Linked DNA regions of Homo sapiens: region 2 is linked to region 1. The links come from fine-mapping of genetic effects on gene expression. Tissue or cell type: whole blood. Region 1 holds a variant in brackets; the other region holds the start of a gene. All regions are shown on one strand. Distances are from middle to middle.

Region 1 (9,141 bases):
ATTAGTGATGGGGTTTCACCATGTTGGCCAGGCTGGTCTTGAACTCCTGGCTTCAAGTGATCTGCCCATCTTGGCCTCCCAAAGTGCTGGGATTGCAGATGTGAGTCACTGCACCTGACCTAAAAATAATTTCTAATATGAGCTTTTTTACTGGCAGAGTACAAAAAAGTTAATTATTAGAGATTATACAATGTCTCGCTACGCGAGTTGACTGATTTTTTTGTTTTTGTTTTGTTTGGTAAGCTTTCAAGTGCACAGTCTACATAGAGTTTATAAGAAGTAAATCTTGCTTTCAAATTAGTATTTCAATAAAATTAGACACAAGAAAGAGTAAGCTATTGCTTCATCATATTTTCCCCTCTTTATTTTCTTCTCCTTCAATTAATTTCTTGTTGCTATTGTAACAAATTACCACAAATGCAGTGATTTAAGACAACACATATTTATTCTTCTCTTAAACTTTGGAAGTCAGAAATCAGAAATGAATCTTATAGGGCTAAAATCAAGGTGTCAGCAGGGCTGATTCCTTCTGATGGCTTCAGAGGGAATATTCCTTGCCTCACCCAGCTTCCAGTGGCTGCCAGTTTCCTTGGCTATGGCCATATCATTCCAATATCTGCTTTCCTTAACAAATTCTCTTCTCCTCTCTCTGAACTCCTCCCTCCTTTTTGTAAGGAACCTTACAATTACATCAGGCCCACCTGCATAATACAGGCTAATCTCTCATCTCAAGATCCTTAACTTAGTCACATCTGCAAAGTTCCTTTTACCATGCAAGGTGACATATTCACATGTTCTGAGGATTAAGACATGGACCTCTTTGGAGGACTACCACTCGGCCTACCACAATATAGAACACGTATTTTTAAAATAACATATCCTAAATCACTTTTTGAAGTGAGGTAGGTACATGCCATGATCCAACCAACCAATCATTTCTCATTGATATCTCCTTCTTGCTTCCTCTGCTTTATCACTTAAATGCCTATCTAGTTCAGAGGAGGTATGAACTTAAAAAAAAACAAAACAAAACAGTAGGTTCATTTCCAGCACTGAATACTTCATTGATTCATGATATTAACTCAAGTAAGTGCTTTTTACTGGATTAGAAGGAGGGAAGTTGAACTTCACCTGTAACCTGACATTTGTCTGAAGGGCACACTGCCATCACTAGAGTGATGCATGAATCAGTCTGAACAGGGTGAAACAAGTGACATCCAAGTTACAGTTGAACACAGGATTTCGAGAGATCATCTTTTTAGGATTAAAATATTATTATAGATTTTTTATTCTGAAAAAGTTTTTGATTCCCATGCAGTTGTAAGAAATAATACAGAGACGCCATGTACTTTTATTTTATTTTATTTATTTATTTTTTTTGAGATGGAGTCTCACTCTGCCGCCCAGGCTGGAGTGCAGTGGCACAATCTTGGCTCACTGCAAGCCCGCCTCCTGGGTTCAGGCCATTCTCCTGCCTCAGCCCCCTGAGTAGCTGGGACTACAGGCGCCCACCACCATGCCCGGCTAATTTTTTGTATTTTTAGTAGAGATGGGGTTTCACCATGTTAGCCAGGATGGTCTCGATCTCCTGACCTCGTAATCTGCCCGCCTCGGCCTCCCAAAGTGCTGGGATTACAGGCGTGAGCCACCGCGCCCGGCCAATCTCATGTACTTTTAACCCAGTTTTACCAATAGCAACGTCTTGCAAAACTATGGTACACTATTACATCCAGAATATTGATGTAGATACAGACAAAATACAGGTCGTTTCATCACCAACACAATCCTTCATGCCCTTTAAAGCCATTTCCACTTCCCTCCCACATTCTTAACCCTTAGAAAACATGAATCTTTTGTCCATTTCTATAATTTTGACATTTTAAGAATGTTATATAAATGGAATCATACAGTATGCAACATTTTGGTATCAGCTTTATTCACATGGTATAATCCTCTGGAGATTCACCCAGGTTTGATGTGTTAATAATTGGCTTCTTTGTATAGCTGAGTGGTATTCTATCATATAGATGTATTGCAGTTTAACCTATTCATCTGTTGAAAGACATCTAGGTTATTTCCATTTGGGGGTTATTACAAATAGAGCTCATATGAACTCTAGCGTACAGGTTTTTGTGTGAACATAAGTTGTCACTTCTCTGGGATTAATGCCCAGGAGTGCAATTGTTTGGTTGCATAGTTACGTGTTTAGCTTTTTAAGCAACTGCCAAACTGCTTTCCAGAGTGGCTATACCATTTTACATTCCCACCAGTAGTGCACGAGTGACATAGTTTCTCCCTATCTTTGCCAGTATTTGTATCATCACCCTTTTTTATTTTAGCTATTCTGATAGGTGTGCAGTGATATCTCATTGCGGTTTTCATCTGAATTTCCCTAGTGGCTAATGATGGTGAACATCTTTGTGTGTGTTCATTTTCTTATGTAAACTGCTGTCTCCAGAGCACCTTTTGTGTTGCTATGAGGTGCACATGACAGCCAAGAGGGCTCGGCTTAAGGCCTGTAATTTCTGCTTCAACCAAAGCTGCTCCATTTATACCTATTTTACATATAGGGCTTCTGAGCAATTTCGTTTAAACAGAGTGTTCTTTGTTTTGTTTTTGGGTTTTTTTTTTTTTTTTTTTTTTGAGACGGAGTCTCGCTCTGTCGCCCAGGCTGGAGTGCAGTGGCACGATCTCGGCTCACTGCAAGCTCCGCCTCCCAGGTTCACGCCATTCTCCTGCCTCAGCCTCCCGAGTAGCTGGGACTACAGGCGCCTGCCACCATGCCCGGCTAATTTTTTTGTATTTTTAGTAGAGACGGGGTTTCACCATGTTAGCCAGGATGGTCTCGATTTCCTGACCTCGTGATTCGCCCGCCTCGGCCTCCCAAAGTGCTGGGATTACAGGTGTGAGCCACTGCGCTCGGCCCTTTTTTGGGTTTTTTTTAAAGGTATGAAGTCAATGTACTTCATTTAGTTTGTAGGAAATTACTTGGCTTCCCAAAATCCTAGATGAAAACTATATTCAGAAGTAGAAATAAATACACTCAAATATATTTATATAAAATATATTCGAAAGCCAACTATTTAAGCTTATATGTTTTTCTTTATTTCTTTACAGTGAATAACTACAAGCTGACTCTAATTTTAAAAAATAAAAATTTTATCTCTCACCAATTTTAAAATGGCTCAAACATCTCTCATTAATAGTTTGTGATAGCTTCCTTTCATGCAGGACCAGCACTCTGATTATCCTTCTACATGCCAGGCAGGGGGAGCTGCAGTGTGGAAGAATAAAAAGTAAAGACACAACTTGGTTATAAGACTTTTGTTATAAAAGTAATATACTTGTGACATGTAACAATGATGATGAACATGTGCAAAATGCTTGCATACAATCTGGTTTTGTGATTCTACAGATTCAGTATTAGAACATAAACCATTTCCAGGGAACATGAGTCACCCTGCAGTCCTATATTCCTTTGAAGGCAACTTCCCCTAGAGACATTAGTATTTTAGCTCCCTCCCACCCCCACGCCTATGCTCAGGTCCTCTTGCTTTTTTTCCTTAAGGAGAGGTATTTTTTGAGCAAGGCTAAAAAACTTGTCATGCTTTTTAAAAAGCCATCCCTACTACATTTTTCTTAGTCATTTTCACAGCCTAGCAGTAGGAGTGTCAGACTCTCAGTGTTCTCAGAGGGGGACACAGGAGGACATCATATAGCTTGACTGTTGCTAACTTGCCAGTAACTCATTCTGACTCAGTGAGGCCATCTGAGGTGACAGTCTGCTGTGGGACCAAAGCCAGAGAACCAAAAGACAGAGGTCACTCCATCCCAGCTCCCAGGGAGCAGCCTGACCTCCCCAGCTGCTTCATGGTCCAACCAGGGCTCCCGGCTGCCCATCCACGTGCATATAAGTGACTCTCCGGAGGAACACAGATTGGCCACAGTGGAACATTTTTCTCCCAT[G/A]TTATCATCCATCCTGATTCTTCGGCTGGGGAAATCTGTGAAAAGTCAAGGATAGGTCTGGTGAAAAGAAAATTAAAACAAAATACACGCCTGCGCCTTCATTCTGTCCACGTGCCTTCCCTGGGCATTGCTCTCCCCACAGCTATATTTAAGGGCTTCATACATGGCGGTCAGAAGCTCTCTGGAGAAGTTCCCAACTATTGGCTTATACATGGTTTTCCTTTTCTCTGTGTGTGGTAGAAGAAATCCGTGGGGGGTAATCTCTTTTGGAATCATATGTTTCATGTTCCCATTGGACCTTGGGTTCAAAAGCATAAATAAACATTTAGAAGGAGTGTTTGCCTCAAGGTAGGACCGAGGCCTGCTGGCTGAGTGCACCCTGGGGAAGAGCTTGGGCTGCCTGACCTCACGCTTCATTGGATTTCCCTCTCTAGGCACAGCCAGGAGCACAGCAAAACTGGAAGGGAGAAACAGGGTGCTGGCCAATTTCATCTTTCCCATGAAAAAGTTAATGACATTCCCACTAAATGCGCTTTAACACCAGTCAGAGGATAATAGGGCTGGCAAAGCATTCGCTCTTTTTCCTAAAGAGAGTGGAAGACCCTAGTATCTTAAAAAACAAAAATGCAAGACTTGAGCCCATCCCCAAATAATTATAGACTCAAGTCAATGATAGTGTCCATCTGGTCCTGGCCCTTCTGAGATAAATGTGGCTGAGGGTTTTAGCAGAACAGCAGTGTTGTGATAAAGCAGTGCACTATCAATTTGTGCCCTGGTTTTAATAATCTACATGTACCAGTAGCCAGAGAATTATGTGAGACACTTTGAAAAGAATGATCAAAAACTGGAATTGGGCTTTTGCATATCTCTCATTTAATCTTCATAACCACCTATCAGAAGGTATTATTATAAGCCCTGGTTTACATATGCAGGGATTGAGGGTGGCATGGCTAAATAACTTTCCCGAGGTCACACGTACAGCAATATGAAGTGCTGGAAATTGAACACAGTGTCTGGCTTCAGAACTCTCACTCCTAACCACTCAGGAATAGCCCCAAGAAGCCCAACATGAAGGGGTGTGGGGGCTCAAGGGAGAGACCCTGACAGACCAGGGGCGGGCATGAGGGCTGAGACAGAGAAAATACCCCTAGGAGTTAAAACTTGTGTTCAATCTTGAAGGGTGGAAAAAAGTTAGAAAGGGGAAGAAGGGTCAGAAGTGAGAAATAGGAAGATCAACCCAGAAAAGGCAAGGGGATGTACAAACATGCAGAGGCCATGAAGAACATGGCAAGGCTGAAGAAAGCTAGGTAGTGCGGTATGCTCAGATGATTGAATTTGGATTGAAATGAGGAAAGAGGGTGGGGACAGAAGTAGAGGCTAGAATTAAAGCTGGACAACTTTCTAAGTCATACCAAAGAGAAAGGAATTTTGAAGATTGGGAGAAGCCCGTAAAGGATTTTAGGCAGGGAGCAGGGTGACAAGATTTGCATTTAAGGAAGATCATTCTGCTTGTATAGGGGATCACTGTCAGGAAATTAGAGCCCAGAGTATGGCAGCAGAGTAAAATGTGAGACAGCAAGACCAGTTAGTAGACGATGTTTTAATCTGGTAGGAAATGACAGGGGGTAGAGACTAAGAGAGTAGAAATGGGACTGAAGAGGAGGGAACTGATTTGAGAGATATTAAGGGAAGTGAAAGGGCTCTAATGATTGATTCAATTTGAGCGCAAAAGGCCAGAGGTGTACTGATGAAATAACATTTATGCATTTCATAAAGACATAACGGTGGTACTCATTCACATGGAGAGAGCAGGGTGGAAGAAGAGGACAGGCTGGGAAAGAGAAAGGTAATGAGAGCAATTTAGAACATAATGAGTCTGAAGTAACCATAGGGCATGCAAAGAAATATTCCAACAGGAGGCTGGTTAAAAAAGCCTGGAGTTCAAGAGAGAAACTTGGGCTAGGGAAACAGATTGTTGAATCCTCCAGTGGTTTTATTTATTTATTTATTTATTTATTTATTTTTATTTATCTTTGAGACGGAGTCTCGCTCTGTTGCCCAGGCTGGAGTGAAATGGCACAATCTCGGCTCACTGCAACATCCACCTCCCAGGTTCAAGTGATTCTCCTGCCTTAGCCTCTTGAGTAGCTGGGATTACACACCCGGCTAATATTTGTATTTTTAGTAGAGACAGGGTTTCACCATGTTGGCCAGGCTAGTCTCGAACTCCTGACATCAAATGATCCACCCGCCTCGGCCTCCCAAAGTGCTGGGATTACAGGCATGAGCCACCGTGCCCGGCCCCTTCCAGTGATATTTGAGGCTGTGGAGTTGTGCCCATTTTTATATTTTCTTCCAAATGTGCTCTCCATACATGCTTTCTGATGCTGGAGCTAGGACTCTGCAAACCTCATTTCTGCTTGACCGTTTGGCTTTTTCTTAGGCTCTGCTAATAGAGGGAAGCTGCAGGGCTGGAGGGAGGACAGGATGTGAGTCTCCCTGCAACCTCACTGCTTCCCTCCAGCAGTTGCAGATCATTCCAGTAACAGCTGTTGGGGCCAGTGTGTAGTTTTTTTTTTAACACTTGCAAAACCGGCTTCCTCTTACCCCCGCTTAGAGACACTAGCAGTGACCAACTATGTCCCCTCTTCCAAGGTCTGGGTCCCTCACTAGGCAGTCTCTTTTCTACATTCTGGTTTTAGTAATTCCAGCTTCTTCCTTTGTCCTTTCAGCCCTAGAGGTGGAGTTGCTTCCTGCAGGTGCTACTTTTGCCATGTCTTAGAGTTTTCTTTTCACTCTTTGGGTTACTTAGTTAACAACTTTATACATAGTTAACAATTCTTCATGTTAATTTATCTCAGTTAACATAACTGGTGTGGTTCCATCTCCTGACTGAATCCTGACTGTTACAGGGTAAATATGGGGATATCAAAGAAAAGTATAGAGAGTAATAAAAGAAGAGAGCTTCAAAAACAGCCTGGGACCACCTACATTTAAGGACCGTCAGCCCAAGATGTGGACCAGGGAGGTGGCAGGAAATCCAAGAGGGTCTGTGTCTGCTAAGGGAAAGAATCAATCAAGGAGAGATAGAACATTAATACCAGAGAGATAATAGTTAATGGAACAAGATTCCTGAGGGAAGTGGTAGGAGTAGCCTTGTCCCCTGGAATGAAAGGAAAGGAAAAAAAGGAATGAAGGTGGGTGAGGAGTAGATTAGCTTGTGAGCGGGGAAGTTGTCAGTTGAGAATAGGGATGAAGGGAGGTGGTTGGGTCTGAGGGAGGTGGAGCCTTTGAAGAGGATGGAAGAGAAGGCTGCCAAGGGCATCCCATGGGACAGCTCTAGGGCAAGGGGAGGGGAGAAGTCCGAGAACGTGAACTTTAAGTGGCTCCAATCCATGTAACCATGTGTGTTTTTTCTTTGTTTGTTTGTTTGTTTGATTAGGACATAGCAGCCCTTTGTGGGATGTTGAAAAGTCAGACAATGGGATTAATCTAGGGAAGGAGTCTGCTCCAAAGAGACCTAGGTCTCAGCAGGAAAGGGATGAACATGGGGGACCCTCGGCCTAGGTTGTCTAAAATATGAAGTGATGGGGGGTGACAGAAAAGAAAAACCCCACACAACTCTATGTGTGCTCATGAGAGTTTGTGTAGAGGTCAACTCTCTTCTTTAACTAAAGCCATAAAAGGAAAAGTTTTCAAATGTGCTCTGGCTAGAGGGAAGAAAATTCCCTACAGAGACTGGACACTAGTTGTAATCTTCTCAATAAAACCATCATAGTTCATCCTTAGGTCCAACCTAATTTACAAATTACTCTTGTCAAATGGCTTATAAATCAGTATATTTTAATTTCTTATTTATTCTAGGTAAGGAACCTCATTGGAGAGGCAGTATGATAAAAGAGCTCAGAAAACTTTAGCGCTCCTCAAATCTGAAGAATCAGGGATATTGCTGTAATGATGTAGGTCTTACTTGAATGCTATTTTACTACTTCAAATTTTGTTAGGGCTGAGATCAAGTCTGATAAGCACCTTAACTTAGGCAAATAATTATGGTAATAAAAGATTATGCCACAGTGCGCAGGCTTCCAAACTTTTCCAACTATTTTCTTGTAAATACATTTGTACAGGGGTAGTTTTCCCCTAGGACAGACCATAATTTAAAAAACTTGTATTCACTGCAGTCCTATAAATTACTGTTTCCCCTTAATGTTGGAAAGTAGTGATTTATTTTAGCAAAACTGCAGACCTCACTAAGGCATGCTTTATGTGTATGTACTTCCCTAGGGCAAGTGAGACCTTTTCAGCATATTTGGGGAAAGCATGAAAACTATTAAATTAATTTACATGGACATTCTTAAGTTTACTCTGATTTATCATATATTTTGCACAAAATGGCTGTTATATTTGCATTATCCATGAATAACTAAAATATACAATTTTTAATAATTTCTACATTTCTAGAATGGAGCTTTATTATTGCTAAGCACTTTCAATTTTTTATGTTTGCAATTTTGCTTATGAAATAATATTCTGTAATAATATATAGAGAGCTGGGCACAGTGCCTGGTGACTGTAATTCTAACAACTCAGGAGGCTGAGGCAGGAGGATCTCTTGAGTCCAGGAGTTCGAGGATGCAGTGAGTCATGATCATGACACTGCATTCCAGTCTGGGAAACACAGCAAGACCCCACTTCCAAAAAAACAAAGTTATATCAAAGTACTTAAAAAGTACTAATAACAATGACCCGCTCACTGACATGAAATTGATTTTTAACCCTTCTCTTGTCACAGATTCATCTAAGAAGAGTATAGGAAAAATAGTCACACTGAAATAGGAATTGATTTCTTTAATTCAATCATAGAAGCATTTGAAAATAAAATGTATCCAGAAAAACACATGGCATGATGAATTTAGCATAAATGCTGAAGTGCTAAATGGTTTAAGAAAAAAATAAAAGATCCAATGCCATGAAGTGCAGCTTCCCCACTAGCTGTAGTCTGAGGATTGATGCTCGCGAACTACGGGGTAAATGTCTGCAAGAATTGTCACAAATCCGGCAGAAGTTACTTAGTAGAAAAAACACAGGAGTCAGGCAAATCAAGATTCAGCTTCTAGCTCAGCCACTTGCTCGCATTTGACCTTAGTTAACTTTTCTTAGTCCTTGTCTGAAAAT
Region 2 (9,141 bases), 57 kb before region 1:
AAGGTGAGGGAAAGCGTGGAACATCTTAGAGCCTTAAGTGGCTGTGACCAAAATGCTGACAGAAATGTAGACAGTGAAGGCCAGGCTGATGAGGTCTCACATGGAATTAAGGAAGTTATCAGGAACTGTAGTAAAGGTCATCCATACTATGCCCTAGCAAAGAACTCTGCTGCATTGTGTCCATGTCCTAGGCATCTGTGGAAGTTGGAACTTAAGAGTGATGACTTAGGGTATCTAGTGGAAGAAATCATTAAGCAACAAAACATCCAAGATGTGCTGTGGCTGCTTCTAACAGCCTATGATCAGATAGATGTGGGAGCAAAGGAATGACTTAAAAATTGGGACTTATACTTAAAAAGGAAAGCGGAGTCTAAAAGTTTGGAAAATGTGCAGCCTGGCCATGTGGTAGAGAAGAAAAGCATTTTCAGGAGAGGAATTCAACCAGGCTGTACAGCAACTTGCTAGAGAGGTTAGCATGGCTAAAAGAGAGCCAAGTGCTAATAGCCAACACAATGAGAAAAAGGCTTGAAGGCATTTCAGAAGTCTTTCAGACTGCCTGTCCGACCACAGGCCCAGAGGCCTAGAAGGAAAGAATAGAAAGTAGGCTGTCTTCCTTATTTTTCTCTTTTAATTGGGCACTCTTTGTTTTGTTGTTGTTGTTTTGTTTTTAGTACTCAACTTTCTGAGTGACTTTTAAACTGAAATCAGAAGGAAAAGAAGGTAGCTAGGTAACAAGTTGCAGTCAGATGAAGAGAGTATTTCAGACAGCAGAAAGAGTTTGCAGGAAGGGAAAGAACCTAAAGTAGGAAAGATCCTGAGAAGTTGGAGGAACTAAAAGAAAATCAGTAAGGCAGAATTTGACTTCCCATTCCCAGCAGATTAAAGTTCACATGCTTATCAAGAACCTTCACATTCTGGCCTCAACCTATCTTTCCTACTCCCCTTTATATTACTTTTCTTCATTTGCAACCCACTCTTGACTACCCCAGATTACTTCCATTCCTGCCTACCACAGATCACATATTTCATACCTCTATGCCATTATTCATGCTGTTTCTTCTGCCTAAAATGTTCCTTTTTTGAAATCTTTCAGATCCCATGAGGCATAATTTATCTCTCTGTTCTTTGTAACTCCAGAGTACTTTGTTTATAACTCTTCCACTACATTTCTAAGACTGATTTATAATTATGTACACACTTGTTTTCTCCACAAGATTATGACTATAAGCCATGTCAGTTATTTTTATATCTCCTTCCCTGATCTTCCAAACATAAAATGCAGTGCTTAGTAAATGTGTGCTGATTTAATATGTTAATATGAGTTTTTGTATTAGGTTACAGCTATATCATTTTTAACTACATCATACTAGATTATTAGTATTAAATTAAATTACAAAGAATGTGTTCCATAACAATAAATAGCTTGTAATCATAACCAATTTTGTGTAGAAAACCAATAAGGATTATAGTTGAGAAGTAAAAGTATTCCTTCAAGATCACTGAGAGTAAAACAGACTAAGGACAGTTCCCTTAAAAATTACTAAGTCATGCCCTATTGTTAAGTTTTCTTGTCACAGTTAAGAATAATCTGAAGATAAAGAAAAACATGTTTACCACTTTTAAAACAGAAGAAGCATAATTACTTAATAAGGTCTTCTGAGTGATAATTATTCCAACATTAGTCCAGCCAGATATGTTCATAGAAATGTGCTAACCTCTTTTTCCCCGAGTACCATTCAATGAAGAACCAATGTAAAACCAGAGGAAGCATTGCCATAAATCCAAGATAGAGCCAATCATAAAGTTCAGGAGATTCTGTGCAAGGCTGACAATATTTCTGTGCATTCGTTCTCTGTCCTCTTGGGCATACCTATAATATATAAAACCAATATTTTGTGTACAGATATTATTTTACAACATTAACACCCCCCCAAATCATTCTATAAGACATCCCATTTCAGTTTAAATATTTAAGTTTACATGTGCAGCTTTTAGAAATAAAAAAGAGGGCATAAGTAAAATAAAAAGAAATCTATATTGTATGTGCTATATTTGTACAATGCTCTTAGAAGATTCCTTTTACTAAGTTACTAAAATAGTTGACTAACATTCAATGAAAAACCTAGTTATTAACATTATATAAGAATAACTGCAGATAAATGTTCTGGATTCATGATGTTCAACTTACTGTACAAGACACGGTACCAAATCATAAATTAGAAATTATTATAAAATTATTAAATGTTTTAAAAAATAATATAGACATCAAAATGCCAACATGAACAATGACTATATTAATGCCTCCATATTCTTTTATATTTCCTTATTTTATTTTTTTTTTGAGACAGAGTCTCCCTCTGTTGCCCACGCTGGAATGCAGTGGTGCAATCTTGGCTCACTGCAACCTCCACCTCCTAGGTTCAAGCAATTCTCCTGTCTCAGCCTCCCGAGTAGCTGGGACTACAGGCGCACACAACTATGCCCAGCTAATTTTTTTCTATTTTTAGCAGAGATGGGGTTTCACCATATTGGTCAGGCTGGTCTCGAACTCCTGACCTCAAGTGATCTACCCACCTAGGCTTCCCAAAGTGCTGGGATTACAGGCATGAGCCACTGCGCCTGGTCCTCCATATTCTTTTATAAATTAATGAGTATAATAACAAAAAATGTTGTATGTGAAAATATTTCAAAAGCAAATAGATTTTACAAAATGAAATAAGATACAAACATAAGACTTACCCCACATTCTCCATATATTTCAGTTGAGCCATTTTTAAATAATAGGGTCTTCCCACAATAAAGTCCAAGGCATGCTGGTTGAATATCGACAGCTTTTTAAAAACAAATGCCAGTATAGTAACATCTTTTGTGATTATAAAAAATAATTGCAATAATAGCTGAAGCATTTGGCAAAAATAACAGTTTCAAATTTTTGAATAATATGTATTAGACAAAAGTCTTGAAGCATTTTTAAATTTACATTTCTCCTTTTACACTGTGACACTGCAGACAGTTATCCTGGAACCTTGCTGTTAATACCGTGCCTTATGATTAAGGTCCTCAACCAGCAGAGCAGGATCTATCTCCAGGACTCAAAGCCTAACCCGGTATGATTAGAGGATACTTCTGAGTTTAACTGATTATAAAGTTCAAATATACATATATTTTTAAATTAGAGCACCAGTAGAGGGTCACCACCTTGTATTTTGCCCAGTCAGGACATTAAGCACCCACATGTAGACACACAATTATCATTATCACCTATGTTCATAACAGAACACATTTTCACATGGGAAAAGCAGAGAGAACATAATTTCATAACAGAGGTATGCAAATTACCTTTATAAAAAGTTTCCTACATTGTCCTAGCTTTTATCATTTTTGTGGAGGATAAGTGAAAATTTCATCAAGGCTGTCACTGGGCCAATATTTTAGAAACCACTGCATTAAAATTAAGCCCCTGATCTAAAGGCTTAGGGGAAAAGCAGCTATTCCTTACTTAAAAAAACCCCAACAACTAAGAACCTAATACGTTGTCTTTGACCTTATTCACAAGAAATTATGGAAGTTTTCTTCATCAGTGACATCTGATTCCCTTCATTCATTCATTGATTAAAACAAACAAACAGGCTCGGTGAGGTGGCTCACGCCTGTAATCCCAGCACTTTGGGAGGTCGAGGTGGGCAGATCATGAGGTCAGGAGTTCCAGACCAGCCTGGCCAAAATGGTGAAACCCCGTCTCTACTAAAAATACAAAAATTAGCCTGACGTGGTGGCGCGCGCCTGTAGTCCCAGCTACTGGGGAGGCTGAGGCAGGAGAATCGCTTGAACCCAGGAGGCAGAGGTTGCAGTGAGCCGAGATCGCGCCACTGCACTCCAGCCTGGGCTACAGAAGGAGACTCCGTCTCAAAACAAACTGCGGTCTACATGTGAATTAATTTGAAAAATTATGCATCTTTTGACTATTCTTGAACAATCATTTCCCAAATTATTCACGAATTCACAATCTAGACTGCCTGGTCTACAGTGCCTTCTCTCCTTTCACATTCAAGCAGACTTTTTACTTCCTTCTCCTTATGCTGCTGAGAGAAAAAGAGAAACAGCATTGAATAATATTCCTCCAGTTTAATATTTTCGCTTTTAACAAATTTCGGACTTAGCTTTTTAAACCCACTGGCCTCTTTAATGGGCGCTTATTTTTTTTGTAACCAATTGTAATCACAATGTTCTAAATTAATACATGAAAATGAATATTTCAGGTTTTTCAAGAATGCAGAAGGTAAGGAATTGGAAACTTCTGTATGGGCTTTACATCTAGTAGATGCTTAATAAATACACGTGAATATCAATAATCTAAAGTTTCTCAAAATCCAAGGCCTGAAAACCAGTATGATAAACTGAACTGAAATAAACAGCCTATCACTTACTAAGCAAAACCCAGGCTCCAAGCGACTGTTGAATTTCTCCTTTCATTTCCTTTAGCGAACGATGGCTAAAGTTTTAAGATTCCATTTTTTTGCAGCGGTCCTGCCCTTTGTGACGGGCGCTATAAATCTACGTTTGAGGTTGAAGCAGTAGACAAATTATGCAGCAACTTGCTTCTGCTTTACTGTTTTTTCTGCACTATCACCCGCGTTTTCAATTCCGAAGTCAACCCTCAAGCAAGTGTTCCCTCGACATTAAACTAAGGGACTGAAGAGACATTTCGGACCAAACAACAAAGACCTGGCATTTCGCCGCAGACAGCGCGCCTCCCCTAGTAGCCCGTTGCGGACAGACCACCCCAACCCCGCAGGAGTGCGGAGCCCGGCCCGAGGGCGGGCGGGGTCAAGGGGCGAGCCTGCGCCGCCAACCGAAGGCCGCCTACAAAGAGCCGAGCCCGAGGCCAGCCGTGTAGGAAAGTAGTCGGGACTACCAGAAACGCTTCCCGGGATCTTGGCGACCACTCACCCATGGGCCGCCTGAAGGTTTTTTTCGAGAAGCACTAGATCAGCGGATCTGGCAGCTGCACCGAACATCCGGGCCACAGCGAGCTCGGCGGCTCCGCCTCCCGGTAACCCGGGCGACAGCTCCGAAGTTCCTCCCTCGCTTCCGGGTTTAGGCTCCGAGACCCCGCCCCCCGGACGTGGCTGGTTAGCGTCCCGCCCTCCTCCCGCGGAGTCAGTGGGTGAGGGTCGGGCTTGAAGCCATAGCTGCGGGACCGTACTCGTCTCCCCCGACGCAGACCATGGAGAGCGCGCTGGCGGTGCCCCGGCTGCCCCCGCATGATCCAGGGACGCCGGTGCTGTCGGTGGTGGACATGCACACGGGCGGCGAGCCCTTGCGTATCGTGCTGGCGGGGTGTCCGGAGGTGTCTGGGCCCACCCTGCTGGCCAAGCGGCGCTACATGCGCCAGCACCTTGACCACGTGCGGCGACGGCTCATGTTCGAGCCCCGAGGGCACCGGGACATGTACGGGGCGGTCCTAGTCCCGAGCGAGCTGCCGGACGCGCATCTGGGCGTCCTGTTCCTGCACAACGAGGGCTACAGCTCCATGTGCGGCCACGCAGTGCTGGCGCTGGGCCGCTTCGCTTTGGACTTCGGGCTTGTGCCGGCGCCCCCTGCGGGCACCCGCGAGGCCCGCGTCAATATCCACTGCCCCTGCGGGCTGGTGACCGCCTTCGTGGCATGCGAGGACGGCCGCAGCCACGGACCGGTGCGCTTCCACAGCGTCCCGGCCTTCGTGCTGGCCACAGGTAATGGGCGGGACCTTTCCAGCCCAGGGCAGAGCTGCAACCGGGACGCGACTAACTACATTAACGGTTTTTCTGGGCTGGAACTCTGGCAACTAACCTACTCCGCGAAACCTTGCAATTAATAGAAAGGTAAATCACTGCCAACGTGTGTCAGCAGCCTTGCGTATTTGGTGCGTGTAATTTCGATTTTCCCTGACTCCCATCCGCCTGTGGTTTTGGGAGACCCTTGAGGAGCGAGGAATTGCGTGTTACCCTGACTCAGCGCCTCCCTCTGCACTGGTGAGGCATTCCTAGAGATTTCACCGGTGGATAAAGCAAGGTACGGTGGGGTCAAGGAAAGAGCGAAGAACAGCCAATGTACCAGGGTTCCAGGCTGGCTGAGAATATGCTTGGTAGACACAGAATCACACTTAATAAGTTACTAAACCTGGTCTCCTTTCCTCACCTCCCCCACTTCTTTGAAGAATTAAATGAGAATGAATGAACAAAGCAGTTTATAAATCATTAAGATACGAATGTTGCTTTTCTTTAAGAACAGGAACACACATTGCCTGGTTTCAAATCCTGATAACCCCCTAAAGCTGTGCAACCTTAGGCAAATTACTTAATCTCTCTGTGCCTGTGTTTCTTCTTTTCCCTCATAGAGTTTTTTTGTTAGGATTAAATGAGAGTATGCAAGATACTGTATTCCTGGAGATAGATTGCAAGGTTTATATGATCGCTAAAGTTCCCTAGGCCTATTGAGCCATTAAAAGGTTTTGCTGGATTCTCTAGTACAGATCCTTGTACAGCTTATCATGTAAAGCAGGGCATCTCTATAACCATAACCCTTACAGGAGGGATGACCTGGCAAGCTGGCATCTGGTTTCTCATCAGACTACTACCTCCCAGGAGCTGAATTCTATCAGTAAGAATGCTTTAGTCATTGTGACTGGAAGTGAGCCAGGAGCCAGTTTACCAGGAATAGAGTTATCCTTTTCTTAAAAATCTTCAAGCCATGCAAATCATCTGTTAGAAAGTTGGACCTTGATTCCCCCTGAAGAACTAGGTTTCAGATTAGCCTGATTATGAATGATAACTGATAGAACAGGCACTTTTAGAGCAACCTTAGGCAGCTGAAATCCACGAGTTAACGAAGAATGCCTCTGGAGAAATTGATGCCATTTTCCCAGAGAATGGTGTCACTTCCAGACTGGGAGGCCACTTGAGGGAGACAGAATTTATGTTTACGATTCCATTTTTAAAACCTCAACAGTTTAACTAGCGTGGCTACCAGAATTCCCCCTAGGCAACTCCAGCAGCAGAGTAGAAACACTCTAGACTTCTGTAGGAAATGGCAGCTGGCAGCAGGAACACAAACTACATCTCATTTCTGGGTCAGTTAGGGCAGGGTCAGTCAACCACTTGACCTCAGTAGTTCCTCTCAGTAGTTCCTGAGAGCATCACTGTATGACAGTACAATGATTAGTGGGCATTAATGGTCACTGAGTTAAGAAAATGAAATGCTATATTCTCTACTTTGAAAAATGCATACAAGGCAGACATAGTGTTCAAGGTCACTGCCCCACCTCTCCCCATCTCAGTGACCTTGTGCTAGAGAGTCCATGCCTCAGTATCACAGTCTGCAAAATGAGGATGACAACAGTACCCACCTCAGAGGGTTGCTGAGTTCATCTCCACCCCACCAGGCTAAAATGCAAACTCTTTCTTGTTCACAGTATTCTAAGTGCCTAGAAGAGTAGTCAGTCAATGAATGTTTGTTGAATGAGTAACTAAATAAATGAAATTTGGAGAAGAATATGCTGATTGACAAATGTAAACATCTGGTCCTCTTGAGAAACCTATTGCCACTGGAAATTAAAGTTTTGGCTTTCGAGTCCCTAATCTGTGCCAGGAACTCCCCATACGTGGAATTTTCAAAACAACTCTTTTAGGAGAAATAGCAGTTACAGTTTGCACAAGACACCAAAGCCACACTAATGGCAGAACTAGGGTTGGAACCCTGGCCTATCATATTGCTTCCCTCTCATCCTTAAAATTTTTTGTAGTTTAAGGAGATATGTTTCAATTTTCTAGAATAGTGCTTAGTGTATTTTAAAGCATTTTAAAATCTGTCTTGTCCAACTAAACTCCAAGAAGGGGAAAAGCCTATGTTTTATTCCTTGTACTTCTCGTATCTTCTACAGTAATCGGCACATAGTAGGTGCTCACTAAATCTTGAGCAAAGTAAATCAAATTGAAATTTCAGTGATATGCTTGTATAGAAGAAAAGAAAAACCCTTAGATTTTGGATTGTGTTCTGGATAGAGGTTGTATATTTTAGTAGAAAGGGTTTGGGCTTTGGAGTCACCTGGTCCTGGGTTTGACCCCAAGCTCTGCCACTTATTTAGTGGGTAAACCAGGGAATAATGTAAAGATAGTAAGTAAAACAGTACCTACCTCTCAGGGCTGTAGTAATTAAGGCACTAATGTAATGAATTAAGGGGCTAGTGTATGTAAAGACCTGCCACATAGGAAGTACTCATGGGTGAAATAAATATCTTAATTTTTAATGTTAGTAATTTAGTGATTAAAAAATGAAATAGTCACAGATAATTGGTGGACAAGAGTAACTTTAAAGGAAATTTGGTCCATTTTAAAGAAAAGGAAACTGAAACTCAGTGAGGTGTAGCACCCTACCCAACTGCCCACCCTAAGAAAACCAGACCCAAGATTCTAGAAAGGTTGGGCCAGGGAAATGATTGTAGGCTCAGGGATGACTTCTCCTGAACCAGCTTCCCAATTTCATCCTGGTCCCGGGATTGGTGGCCAATGCCCCATTTAGTTGTTACAATCAAGGGAAGAGGGCAGGCCGACTGAACCCTGGGACCGTCACCTGTGTCTCCTGGTAAGTGCTGATCTTCACCCTCACTTTAGCTTTCCACCTTCCAGCAGTCCCTCATTTCTATCAACTTGCCCATTCTCTTTTCATTAAACTTGCTTTTCATGTTGCGCCAGCATCAAGATAAAGACATTTTTTATTCAGTTTTGTTGTTACAATCCACAGCATGTTTTACTCTTTTGATTATAAACTTGCTCTGTTTTAACACATCATGGGTTAAAAGGGCTTCTGTGGACTAGTGTGGACTAATAGCATACTGATAGCCTTCTGTGGACTGATAGCATACTGATATCTTTGTATGACCTTGTATGAAAACTCAGGAACACAAGATATATTTTCTTTCCCAAAACTTAATTTCTGAAGCTGAAACTCTACTCTGTCCTTTTGGTTCACTTAGCCTCATCACTCCATGTGTTGTCCCCTTTCCTGATATGTGTGAGCAAAGGTTTCTTAAAAGTGCTGTGGCCTTGGAGAGGATGGCACTTCAGTCCTCAGCTTACACAGTTAACCAGCAAAGTGGAGCAG

Alleles and levels. Positions count from the first base shown, and alleles are read on the strand shown. Sizes are in standard deviations (SD) of each study's normalised expression.
With allele G in place of A in region 1, the expression in whole blood of the gene that starts at base 5,136 in region 2 is lower (small effect, 0.38 SD a copy in GTEx).

Evidence for each region. PIP is the estimated chance that this variant, and not a neighbour inherited with it, causes the effect.
Region 2: it holds the start of L3HYPDH, and the variant in region 1 is fine-mapped to the expression of L3HYPDH in whole blood (GTEx, PIP 0.91).

Annotation. Positions count from the first base shown.
Region 1 is chr14:59,423,064-59,432,204 of GRCh38, reverse strand. No RefSeq gene overlaps it. Among named protein-coding and RNA genes, the nearest start is that of GPR135, 38 kb to the left of the region's middle. The variant G/A (reference allele first, on the strand shown) is at 3,967.
Region 2 is chr14:59,480,403-59,489,543 of GRCh38, reverse strand. It overlaps L3HYPDH (trans-L-3-hydroxyproline dehydratase), which reads left to right and starts at 5,136. Exons shown (of 5, transcript NM_144581.2): 1 at 5,136-5,735. The coding sequence starts at 5,228. JKAMP (JNK1/MAPK8 associated membrane protein) reads right to left here and starts at 5,027. Exons shown (of 7, transcript NM_016475.5): 1 at 4,951-5,027; 2 at 2,740-2,831; 3 at 1,716-1,870. The coding sequence starts at 4,954. It overlaps LOC124903326 (a long non-coding RNA gene), which reads right to left and starts at 1,709. Exons shown (of 2, transcript XR_007064196.1): 1 at 1-1,709. RefSeq lists enhancers at 4,782-5,061, 8,577-8,676.